3 separate regions of the Homo sapiens genome follow, and all the other regions are linked to region 1. The links come from fine-mapping of genetic effects on gene expression. A gene starts in region 1. Each other region holds a variant in brackets. All regions are shown on one strand. Distances are from middle to middle. Region 1 holds the start of CHURC1 (churchill domain containing 1). Region 2 overlaps LOC105370534 (a long non-coding RNA gene). Region 3 overlaps CHURC1-FNTB (CHURC1-FNTB readthrough).

Region 1 (4,242 bases):
GAGGAGACATATTTTTCTTACCAACCACATAGGATTGTAATAGCATAAAATTAGAAACTGAAATGAGGACACTTTTGAAAGGTTGAAAATGTCATACAAATGGGAGGTATTATAATTATTCTAAGAATAAGGTAAACTCTGATGGCTCTAGTTCTTGCAGTGTTTCTTAGCACACCTATGATTTTTAATAACAGTTGCAGATACTTACTAGAAGTTGAAATACTAAAGGTTACAACTTCAGTGCTTCCGTGGAAAAATAATTCCCATATTAGCAAACCCATTTAAACTGGTGTGCTTTGAAATGGTTATTAATCTCTTCTTTAAGGAATCTGGATCCCAGAGTCTCCCAGGCTCCCCAATCTTTCTTCCCTGACATGACAGCAATAAAGCAGGGCTGAGGGAGGATGTTGATGTTCCCATTGGGGTAGAGGAGTGTGATAAAGACGCATTGTTCAGAAACAGAGACAAACTTCGGAGATTCGTCTGCAAGTTAATTAGGTCGTTGCGAATAAATAAGATGCTTTCAATACAGAGAGAAAGGATGAGGCGGGGCAACAAGCACAAGCATTTTGAGACCCACAGGATTGGGAAATGATGCAGGAACAACTGACCTGGCCATTTTTCTTTCTTTCTTTCTTTTCTTGGAAGCACATATGTTTATTGGTTTTTTAATCTGTGAACCAATAGGTCATTTATAAATGGATGTGCAAATCTGAAATCAAAATATCTGCAGTCAATTCAATTAGATAATTTTTGAAATCTATTTATTTTTAATATACTTTAAGTTCTAGGGTACATGTGCACAACGTGCAGATTTGTTACCTATGTATAGATATGCCATGTTGGTGTGCTGCACACATTAACTCGTCATTTACATTAAGTATATCTCCTAATGCTATCCCTCCCCCCTCCCCCCACCCCACGACAGGCCCCGGTGTGTGGTGTTCCCCACCCTGTGTCCAAGTGTTCTCATTGTTCAATTCCCACCTATGAGTGAGAACATGCGGTGTTTGGTTTTCTGTCCTTGCGATAGTTTGCTCAGAATGACGGTTTCCAGCTTCATCCGTGTCCCTACAAAGGACATGAACTCATCCTTTTTTATGGCTGCATAGTATTCCATGGTATATATGTGCCACATTTTCTTAATCCAGTCTATCATTGATGGACATTTGCATTGGTTCCAAGTCTTTGGTATTCTGAATAGTGCCACAATAAACATACATGTGCATGTGTCTTTATAGCAGCATGATTTATAATCCTTTGGGTATATACCCAGTAATGGGATGGCTGATGACCTGGCCATTTTTCTATTTACATAGTGCTTGCCCGCCACTGAGGTGCTTCTGTGACACCTGAGAGAGATAGAAATACGTTCCTCGTTGCTATGTCCTCCAGAGGACTCTGGAATGACCAATTATTACTAATATTTTAAGTGTTTTTTTAGGAGATTTTCTGCAGCACTCTGAGTGTCTCTTCCCAAACACTTCGGTTACTGTTTATTCACCTGCTGAGATCTGGTCTCTTATTCACTCTCATTGCCTTAAGAAATGGTACAGAAATGTATTCATTAACATTTCAGATTTGTATATGCGGTAGCGAGAAATAATTCCCTTTCTTGTGTGTCGTGATTTGCCTTTCTTGTCAGCCTAAGCTCAGGAAGGTGTCTGTGAGAACTTCGCTCAGCCCAAGATCCCTTTCCCTTCCCGTCACATCTGTTAGCGCACAAGATTTCTTCGTCTGTCTCCAAAGGTTTCTGAAGCCCCACCCTTTGCCCACGCACGGTGCCAAGGAGACTGTGCCCTGCCTTGACAACAGTTGCTAAGGGGCGGAGACTTCGGCTCGGTTCCCGAGACGGAATACCCAGGAGTCGAGTACTTGGGCGCATGCGGCAACCGTATCTCAGTTCTCGCGAGGTTTCGTCTTCCCGGAAGCGTTGGAGGACATTCCCTGTTGACTGCGTCGCGATGTGTGGCGACTGTGTGGAGAAGGAATATCCCAACCGGGTGAGCGACTGGGCGCTCCCTTGGCCCGCGGGCGGCCCCCGAGGTGTCTCATATCCAAGGCTGGCCTTCCCAGAGAGGCCGTACGTGGGGCGGACTCGGCCGCACTGCCGGTCCCGGTGACCCAGTAGCGGTATTTAGGCACACCAGGGATGGCCTGTGGCGGTCTGCACCTCTGGTACCCGCCCTGGCGGCTGACCTCAGTTGTAGTGGCCGTTCTCTTGAGCTCCAAGGAGCAACAGAGGAACCCCACCACCACCACAACCCCCGTCGACAACCGAGGGACTCCCCCACCCCCACTTCCGGTCTCATCCTCAAGCTCGATTTGATGAAGTACAATTTTCTTACCGAATTCTAGCGCTGGAGGGGACCTCTGTGGTCATCTGTTCTAACACTTTTGCAGATGAAGAAACCGATGCCCAGAGAGGGGAAATCACTTGCCCAAGTTCACATTCTAGTTGCATGGATGAGAGCCAGGACTAGAATTTAGGTTTCCTGCCTGTTACCGCCTTCTGAATCTCAGTTACTTTCAGGTTCAGGAGTTTGCAAAGCTTGTCTATTCTCATTCATTCAAGGCATCCTTGTTGAACATTTATATATGTGTAGTTAGATTACTTTGCTAGGCCAGAAAGGGATTATTTCTCCTCTCTTTGAGACAGGGTGCTGCTGTTGCCCAGGCTGGTCTCAAATTCCTGGGATCAAGTGATCCTCCCGCCTTGGCCTCCGAAAGTGCTGGGATTACTGGCATGAGCCACCACGTCCAGCTGGATTATTTGTTTCAGAGAAGAAATTAAAAGGCACCTTTGGTGCTGCCTAACAGCTTACAGTTTTGGGGAGTATGTGACTAACAAAAAATGAGTAGCTCAGTTCAGAAATGCTATTCAAGTTTAGGGAAAGGGGAGGGCAATAGGGGATAGTGCTGTTCTCCCCTGAGAAAAGGTGGACATCATCTAAGACTTGAAGGACAGTTGTAATTAGGGTAGAAAAGAAGGTGAGGAGCTGGAGGATGGGGGAAAATTACAGAAATGGAATTTGTGCATTGGTTGGGAAGGAGGGAGAAAGTCTCTGTAGTTCCTTATGTCTTAGTATCTTATGGGTAATACTTAGGCTTTTGAGTAGCATGTATAACAGTATGAATTCTCCTGTAGTACAACTACTTTGAAAAAGCGGGTGAGCCTTATAAAATACAGACATGACCCAGTGATTCCCATTCTAGAAAAATGCATGTGTATATGCTTCTGAAGACTTTTATAAATAAGTGTTCATAACAGCATTATTTTTGTAGTAGATTGGAAAAGTAACTGATACATTCATTAGAATGGAACACCATTAATGAATGAGGAATGGAAGTGAATGAATTAGAGCAGTAGTTCTCTACCAGGAGTGATTTTTGGCTCTTAGGAGACATTTGGCAATATCCAGAGACATTTTTTGGGTGTCAAAAGGGGAAGTACTACTGACTGCTAATGGGTGATGCAAGGGATGCCGCTAAACATCCAGCAATACATGGGACAGCCACCACAACAAAGTATCACTCCCAATGTCAATAGTGTGGAGGTAGAGAAACCCTGAATTATAGCCGTGAAACCAAACTAGAATTACACAGCAGCCTGAAAAGTCTTACAAATAGTGTTGATGAAAGAACACATAAAGTATAATTCAAAAAGAGGCAAACCAAAATATATTATTCAAGGATGTACCTGGGTGGTAAAACTGTAAGGAACGTATACAATTACTGTTAAGTCGAGATAGTGGTTACTCCTAAGGGATTAGGGTGTGATCAAGAAGGGTCACATGAGAAAAAGTCTTCCCGGGTGCAAGCAGTGTTTTATTTCTTGATTTGGGTGGTGGTTCTACAGATGTACACTTTATAATCATTTCTTGTTCGCTACATTTATGTTTCATGTACTTTACTATGTACTATTTCATTTTTTTAAAGTTTAAAAAGATTTTTATGAAACCAGTAATAAACATGAGCTATTATGAGACCATGAGGGAGGAGTTTGCAGTAGAGAATATTAAAGAGATTAGGTTGGATTCTTTTTTGTTGTTGTTTTTGTTTTTGAGATGGAGTCTTGCTCTGTCGCCCAGGTTGGAGTGCAGTGGCATGATCTCGGCTCACTGCAAGCTCCGCCTCACTGGTTCATGCCATTCTCCTGCCTCAGCCTCCCGAGTAGCTCGGACTGCAGGTGCCCACCACCATGCCCAGCTAATTTTTTTGTATTTTTAGTAGAGACAGGGT
Region 2 (4,242 bases), 27 kb before region 1:
TTCCTGATCTTTCCTTGCCACACAGGATTAGGTTTTTTGTCACCTCACATGAGCTTGAGTAGATGTAATGGCAGACTTACACTGGGGTATCTGATGAACTGGGACCTGTAGGTGCTAATTCACCTTGTTCCCAAGGCTGTATTAATTTGCTAGGGCTCCCATGACAAAGTACCATATGCTGGGTGACTCAAACACAAAAATTAATTTTCTTACAGTACTAGGGTCTAGAAGTCCAAGATCAAGGTTTCGGCAGGGTTGATTTCTTCTGAAGCCTCTCTCCTTGGCTTGTAGAGGGCTATCTTTTCCCTCTGTCTTCACATAGTCTCCACTTTGTGTGCACCTATGTCCTACTCTCTTTTTTTTTTTTATGGACATGAGTTATATTTGGTTAGGGCCCATCCATATGACCTCAGTTTTACTTTCACTACCTCTGTAAAGCCTTATCTCCAAATACAGTCACTTTCTGAGGCATTGAGATCTAAGACTTCAACATGTGAATTTAGGGGGATACAATTAAGTCCATCACACAGCCTCATCTTTTCTCACAATGAATTGCTTCTGGAGCCTCTTACCTGTTCATCCGTTCTCCAGTTTCCCTCTCCTTCAATTCTGCTTCCACATAGTAGCCAAAGTACACTTTCTAAAAAGGAAGGTTGGTCTTGTCACTCTGCTTCTTTAAATCAGCCAGTGGCTCCCCATTGCTTTCAGGATATAGTTTTAAGATTCCTGGCACTTAGCATAGTATCTGACACAAAAGATATACTTAATAAAGGCCTAATGAGCAAATGAGTAAATAAATGAATGAACACATTATGGAAATTAAAGGAGGTTGCAATCTTGGAGATCAACCAAAGAACAGGTAATTCAAAAAGTCATTTCTATTTGGCTTAAAAATGCATATTTGTGATTTTTTTCAGGAGATTAACTTTCCTATCTATGTTCGAATAAGGTTATTTAAATGAATTCACATTCCCTGAAACATAGCTGGCAATATTTGTGCCTGAATTTCACCAGGTCCTCAGCTACCCTGATGCATCCATACCTAACTTATTGTCAATGGGTGAGAAATGGAGTGAATCGAGTAGGTTTTATGCTCACAGTTACCACTGAGCTCATCTATGGAGGCAGGGGTCTGCCATCTTCCAACGTCTTTATAACAAGGGATAGCAAACACAATAATGATGATTCGGTTAGCTTTTGTCTCTGTCTGCTCCACCCTCTCAGTGTCATTTTCAGTCCTCATCCTTGGGCAATGGCCCTGCTCCAACTCCCATACTCCAATATGCCAAAGCCTTGAGTACACAGGATTAAGAACATAGGAAGATGAATCCAAACGCATTATAAGGAGTGAGTTAATGTTGTTTTGATATTAACACTCTACCTTGAGTACTCCAGACAGTGGGTAGTCTGCAAGTAGACAACTGAGAGTAACTAACCATGAAAACTTTGTTCTCTTCCTTTATTAATATTTATCAAGCCAGAAACTCAAATCAAGGGTAGAAAATATAATTTTAAAAAATCAAATTTGTTAATATGGAATGACAGCTGGAGTTCTAACAGTTTAACCAATAAAACAATTTTGTGTTTATATGATAATTACTGCCAGCATAAATGGTCTTGTTAATTGCTTTTATTTGTTAGTGAGCAGTTTCCAAATTCACAAATATTTGTTCTTAATATTAACCAAGACCTTTGGGAAATTTTCAATAAAGTTTGGAAAGACATTGCAATAAAAGACTCCATTACTTCTGCAAATTCATCTCATTTTCTTTTCTATTGGATATTTCTACAGCTGCTCAATTTCTGTTTGGATATTTCTTCAATGATTTAAGGTCTGGTCTACAAGAAACTATGATTCAATTCAAACATATGTTTTATAGAATTCATACAGAATATAACTGGGTCTTCTCAGAAATATCATTTTCCTCATTTTTTTGGTATGAAAAATTCTATTTTTAAAAGTGCATTTATCATTTTCTCTCTTCCAAATGCCTTATGTCATTTTTATTCAATTTCATGAAGTAAATTGCTATCATTATCCTTACTGCTATATTAAGAAATTAAGAAAGAGTTTAAGTAGTTTTACAAAGATCACATAGAAATCCAAATCTCTGCTTATTAAAGCATCATTTATTCAAGGAGCAGTATCTCATGATTTTTAAATTAACAAATCCCATGATATGTAATGTAGATGATTCATACTATAACCTAATATTTTAAGTCATTAATTAAGTCAAGAATTTAGCCCCACATTATGCTAAGCATGTAGAGTAACAACTCTGTGCTGCTTGTTCTATTCCATCTCCATCTTAGTAATCAAAATGCACTTACGCACCCAGCTCTTGACCTTCCATAGCAGAAACTGAACCAAAGGAAAGCTGTAGACCCTTCTTTTGGGAGGAGTTCCAAACTGTGAGTGGGCATTTGTTTTCCATCACTGACCCCAACTGCTGCCTAACTCTATTTCTCCACCCTTACCCTTCTCCTCAAATAAATACTGCCAGGCATAAACAGGTATATGTTTATGCCTGTTTATGGCATAAACAGCCCCATATAACACCAGCCCCATATATTTCAAATACTCAGCATATCCCTATCCTGCCTTCATTCCAAAGAATGTACTGGAATCTGCTAACTTATTTCATAACTAAAAACAAATC[TTTTGTTTG/T]TTTGTTTGTTTTTGAGACAGAGTTTTGCTCTTGTCATCCAGGCTGGAGTGCAATGGTGAGATCTTGGCTCACTGCAACCTCCGCCTCCCAGATTCAAGTGATTCTCCTGCTTCAGCCTCCCAAGTAGCTGGGATTACAGGTGCCTGCCACCACGCCAGGCTAATTTTGTTGTATTTTTAGTAGAGTCGGGGTTTCACCATGTTGGCCAAGCTGGTCTCGAACTCCTGACCTCAGGTAATCCACCTGCCTAGGCCTCCCAAAGTGCTGGGATTACAGGTGTGAGCCACCACGTCCAGCCTTAAAAGCAAATCTTAAAATGCAATGACCCCGGGAGGAGTTAGCTTTTAAGGTAGGATCTTTTGGCTATTGGCATAAGAAAAAAAAGTCAGTTCCACTTAGTGACATTTTAAGAGCCAAGAATTTTTTTTTTAAGATAGTAGCAGGGTAAACCAGAAAGATCACTAGATGTAAAGGCAAAATACCTGGATTCTACTTCCTCTTAACCTCTCTATATCTCAGCTTCTCTTCTGCGAAATGATGGCATTGAACTAGCTAGTCTCTAAGGATTCTTTTAGCTTTAGCTTTCTATGTTTTACACTTATGCTAAGAACATAGTAGATGTTCATTATAATAATGAAAAATTGGAAATCACTTCAATGTTCATCAAAATGGGATTGGTTAAACCAATTATGGTGTGAACGCATGCACACACACACACACACATAAATTCTATGTAGTCATTTAAGTGATGTGGTTTTATGCTTACTGATAGGGAAAGATGTCATGGCATACTGTTGATTTTTTTTAAGTAGGCTCTAAATAATTTCTATTTGATTAAGAAATAAGACATTTCATATCAGGAAAGATACTCCAAAAAATCTAAGTGATTTCTAGATGGTGAGATTTAGAGTAATTCTTACTTCCTTCTCTATTTTGCTATAAGGTTTGGGTATTTCATAAGCATAGAATATTTTATAATAAATAATAAAGTTGTTTTCAATGTGGGGGAAAATATAGTTAAATATAAATAGCAGATATGAGATCCTTACCTGCGAACAAGCTTTGATAGAGAGGATGGTGAGAACAAGAACAAAACAGCAGTGAACTAAAGGAAAACAAGGTCTGAATATTCTCATCAATAACTCAGATAATGAAATAACCGTGCCCCAAAGGTTAGAAAAAAAAAACTATTCTTTTTATACAAAACCGGCACAGCTGATCTGTTTTGCTCATTCAGGGATCTAATCAAAACCAGCACAGCTGATCTGTTTTGCTCATTCAGGGATCCCATCGCCAGTGTGGAAGATGGAGTTGCCTGACTCATGCTCAGCCCCTTACCAGTCCACCCCATGAGCAATGGGAAGACCTGTCGAGTCATCACACTGGCCATTAGACCAACCTGAGGCTATGGAAAGAAACAATCCTTACTTCGTTTTATGCTGCTATAACAGAATACTATGGATTGGGTAATTTATAATAAACAGAATTTATTTGGCTCATGGTTCTGGAGGCTGGGAAGTCCAAGATTATGGCACCAACATGTGGCGAAGGCCTTCTTGCTGCATCATCTCGT
Region 3 (4,242 bases), 24 kb after region 1:
GGGTTAAATAACCTAGTGTATATAAAGTACCTAGCCCAGTCTGTGCCCATAGTAAATATTAAATGAATGGTAGTTTGGATGATGGTTGTGATGGTGATTATAATAAAGTTCTAGAGTTTGACTCAGTGTTTTTGAGACAAGGTCTCATCCAGGCTGGAGTGCAGTGGTGCAATCATAGCTCACTGCAGCCTCGAACTCCCAGGCGCAAGCAATTCTCCCACCCTAGCTGCCTGAGTAGCTGAAACCATTACAGGTGTACATCACCATGCTCAGCCGATTTTTTTTTTTTTTTTTTAATTTTTTGTAGAGACGAGGTCTCACTGTGTAGCCCAGGCTACATAGTGAGCTCCTGGGCTCAGGCCATCTTCCCGCCTCAACTTCCCAAAGTGTTGGGATTATAGGCTTGAGCCACCATACTGGGCCTCAGTGTCTCATAAACTAAGGAGAGATAGCTATGGGAACATAGTCATGAAGATAATTATCGATTTCAGTGTCTTTACCCTGGCCTCCTAAAATCACTTGTTCCAAGCTCTGGTTTTTTTGTTTTGTTTTTTGTTTTTGTAAGAGCCCTCAGGTTAGTGATTCTCTCTGTCCCTCCTCTGAGTTGAATAGCATTATCTCAGCACTTCTGGGAGAGTTGTTAAGGAGACTTCCCCCTCCTTCTGGGTGCCCCTAGGGAAATCTGATTAAAAGATTTTTGTTTATCTAGAAAAGTGGGTGATATTTTAAAGCTTTGCCTTGTCTGTTTATGATCACAAGCTAATACTTCTGAGGATGATAAGGGGGACAAACAAGATGAAGAATAAAGGAAAGGAAACACTTTCTAATTTCTCTTCATTTTAACAACAGCACAACTAAATATTTGGTAAACCTAAACATCCTTTTAAAATAGAATCTTCCAGTCTTGCCTTCCCTGTTTCCTCCTGAGCTGAATAGATCAGGTTCTGTCTGAAGCAAATAGTGTTTCCCCTCCCAAGTGAAGAGCCTTCATTCTAGCTTTATGGCCTTCTCTTGACTTTCTGCAGAATAACTTATACTGTAATTCCCATTCCTTTGGGAATCCCTAAATAATTCTTTGAACTTGGGCCTCAAGGGAAAGACTGAACACATTGTACTGGTGTCTCAGGCTCTAAGTTGCCTGTGGCATGTTTCCAACACCCGAGATAGCTGGCTCTGTTACTGGATGTAACAACAGGCTATGGTACTGTCAAGGTGATGACTAGCATCCAAGAAGAATTCTCTATTTTGTCAGGAAAGCAATTTGTCTGCAGTTACTGCTCTAAAATCAGTACATGGTCCTGCCCCATAATAATTCATACCCCAGCTGTTGACTTTAAGAGCAGGAATCTGAAAGGCTTGAGGTTTCAAGAGTGAAGGTAAGGGTAGCCTTAAGTTAGCAGAAGGCCCTGCAGAAAGGTGTCAGGGGATTCCCACTGTAATACTCAGGTTACCCTTTTGAAATAAAGCACTGTTGTTGACAGGTTTAGTTGAAGGTCAGAAAGTGGGGATCCTAAACATCTATTCCACATTCACTCTCATATGATGCAAGTGCTTAGAAAATGGTTAGGGTAAGCAGAACAATTAAAGGAAAAACATTTTCCCTTCAGCATTGGGCTTCTCAAGCAGTGTGTCCAGTTTGGAAAACTGTCCCTTCAGGGTTTCAGTGAATAGAAGTGAAAATATTCCATCTAGTGGTCAAAGAAGGGAAGATGAAATGAGAAGTTTCCAGGATGAGGTCTGTGGGGCAAGGTGACAGGCAGTGGCCTCTCAGCAGGTATCTTTTCCAGAACATGATAGAACCTGACCTTGGCGGTGGTGATATGTTTTGATTATGTCTGCACTGGATGAGGAATTGGGGACACCATCCTTGCAAGGCCTCTGAGCAAAACTGTCCTCACAGTGAGGAATAATGATGTTGCAAATGGCAGATTATAAACAGCCTGACTCTGAAGGGAGGCTCTCTCCCATCCCCAACCCCTTCCTTCTTACAGAGGAAGAAATGAGTCCAGTCATTCCTGCCTCTATTTGTCTGGAGCCTGAATTTGTGAATATGTGATTTTGAGAAGAATGAGGGTGTAATGTGAACTTTATTTATTTATTTTGAGACGGAGTCTCACTCTGTCGCCCAGGCTGGAGTGTAGTGGCGCCGCCATCTTGGCTCACTGCAGCCTCCACCTCCCGGGTTCAAATGAGTCTCTCACCTCAGCCTCCTGAGTAGCTGGGATTACAGGCGTGCGCCACCACACCTGGCTAATTTTTTGTATTTTTAGTACAGACAGAGTTTCATCATGTTGGCCAGGCTGGTCTCGAACTCCTGACCTCAAGTGATCCGCCTGTCTCGGCCTCTCAAAGTGCTGGGATTATAGGTGTGAGCCACCACACCCGGGCCATGAACTTTAAAAAGGAGGGAGAATCAGTCTAGCAAAGGATCAAACACCC[G/A]AGATGTTTGATGATCAGGAAAAAGATAAAGTGCTGTTTGTGTTCTCAGTAACTACACCCTCTATGCCCTTGCTATTGGTAAACATTAACTAAGCTGACTGCCCAGGAATTTCCCAAGGCACAAGTCAGATCTAGTTGGCCCAGTACCCACAGTGCTATTGATGCTTCCTGACTGTAATCCTCCTAACAGCCTCCCAATATCCCCAACCAAAGGGCTCATTGTCTTTTCCTCCTCTACCTCCCATTATCACTTTCTCTTTTTCCCCAGTTCTGAAGAAGAGCTGTAAAGGAATAATATAATTCACATTTCCCGTAACTGCACCTGCCACTGCAGACCTTGGCCAGCGCTTGCTTTCCTGTCAGTAATTAGGGCATCCCTTGATCCGTCAGATCCTCCCCTCCCAAAGCTTTGTGTGCTAGCAGCTCCTCTATCCCACCTGCAGTTTGTAGCTTCCCTCCGCCCTCTGTCAAAGAACACACACACAGGCTGGCCGTTTCCACACCTGCCCTTTATTGGTCTCTTCTAGCAGAGTGGCTCCAGGCCCTTCACGCCTCTCAGACACCACCCATGAGGGTTTAGGAAGGTGCCATCATTCTGTGAAGGCCCAGAGCTTACCCAAGTCTTGGAGCCCAAGTTGAATCACCAACCAGAGGGTTGGGAGAGGAAAAGGAAACAGGCAGAGGGGAAAGGCAAGGCTCTGCAGTGAAGGGGACTGATATCAAGGGAATGCTGAGGTCCAGCAGTGTCTCCTGAAGGCATGCTGCATCCTAAGGCTCCTCAGGACTGGATGGAGTAGGAGATCTGTGTGTTGAGCAGTTCACATCTATATGGCAACTTTAAGGAGGCGCTTGATGTCAGGCTCAATGTTGATGGTTGGGAAGGTGCGGCTGTAGCGTCGGAAGGGCTCTCCCTCCGGCCCTATGAGGAACTTCTCAAAGTTCCAGGCCACATCTGAGCGGCGCACAGGGCTCCAAATGATGAGCTTGGGATCGGTCATGAGGGAAAATGGGTCATCATAAGGGTAGGGGAGCTTGTCCTTCAGGTAGGCGAAGACAGGATGCTCGTTCTGCCCATTCACCTCACATTTTTGGACAAGGGTGAAGGTGGGCTGGTATCCACCCCCAGGACGGACATACTTGAGACTGTTCAGGATCTCCTCATTCTGACAGTTCTCCTAGGGGAGGAAAAAGACAAAGTGCGTGGACAGTGGGTGGGGGAAGAGAAAGATCCACAACATGAAACTCTTTCACCCTCCTACACTCCCTCCCCAGGGTCATTCTTTTTCACTGTGAAAGAGAGAGAGACAAGACAGACGAGGTGTTGCTCACTGCAGCCTTGAACTTCTGGGCTCAAGCATTCCTCCTGCTTCAGCCTCTTTAGTAGCTGAGACTACAGACACAGGCCACCATGCCCGGCTAATTTTTTTTTTTTTTTGTAGAGATGGGGTCTCACTTTGTTGCCCATGCTTTGGCTGCTCTTCAAGATTTAGCACTTCTGAGCTGTTGCTTTTGTCTCCAGTCTACCCTGAGCAGTTCTTAAGGTGTTTGAAGCAGAAGAAAGAGAAAAGAGGCTTAGGTTATACTGCTTAGAACCTCCTCTTCAACTAACCTACCGACCCACCTACCCATAAATCCATACCTACACACACACCCCTTTCCTTTCCTCTGCCCTGGTTTTGCCTCGCCTGCTTTCAATTGCACGTGTGTTGAGTATAGCCTTTGCCTCTGCCTACTCAGCTCCTTGAACTGAGGGTGAAATTGAGACCCAGAGGAATGGGATTTACAGCTTCTTGCTTTCTTCTT

The links.
Region 2: its variant is fine-mapped to the expression of CHURC1 in whole blood (INTERVAL, PIP above 0.99).
Region 3: its variant is fine-mapped to the expression of CHURC1 in whole blood (INTERVAL, PIP above 0.99).

The regions. Positions count from the first base shown.
Region 1 is chr14:64,912,532-64,916,773 of GRCh38, forward strand. It overlaps CHURC1 (churchill domain containing 1), which reads left to right and starts at 1,924. Exons shown (of 4, transcript NM_001386928.1): 1 at 1,924-2,003. The coding sequence starts at 1,965. CHURC1-FNTB (CHURC1-FNTB readthrough) reads left to right here and starts at 1,830. Exons shown (of 14, transcript NM_001202559.1): 1 at 1,830-2,003. The coding sequence starts at 1,884. RefSeq lists enhancers at 1,724-1,773, 1,924-2,193.
Region 2 is chr14:64,885,351-64,889,592 of GRCh38, forward strand. It overlaps LOC105370534 (a long non-coding RNA gene), which reads right to left. Exons shown (of 3, transcript XR_943942.3): 2 at 573-640. Among named protein-coding and RNA genes, the nearest start is that of SPTB, 7.6 kb to the left of the region's middle. The variant TTTTGTTTG/T (reference allele first, on the strand shown) is at 2,661.
Region 3 is chr14:64,936,225-64,940,466 of GRCh38, forward strand. All of the region lies in intron 3 of CHURC1-FNTB (CHURC1-FNTB readthrough), which reads left to right. It overlaps GPX2 (glutathione peroxidase 2), which reads right to left. Exons shown (of 2, transcript NM_002083.4): 2 at 2,934-3,614. The coding sequence ends at 3,264. Among named protein-coding and RNA genes, the nearest start is that of GPX2, 4.4 kb to the right of the region's middle. The variant G/A (reference allele first, on the strand shown) is at 2,440.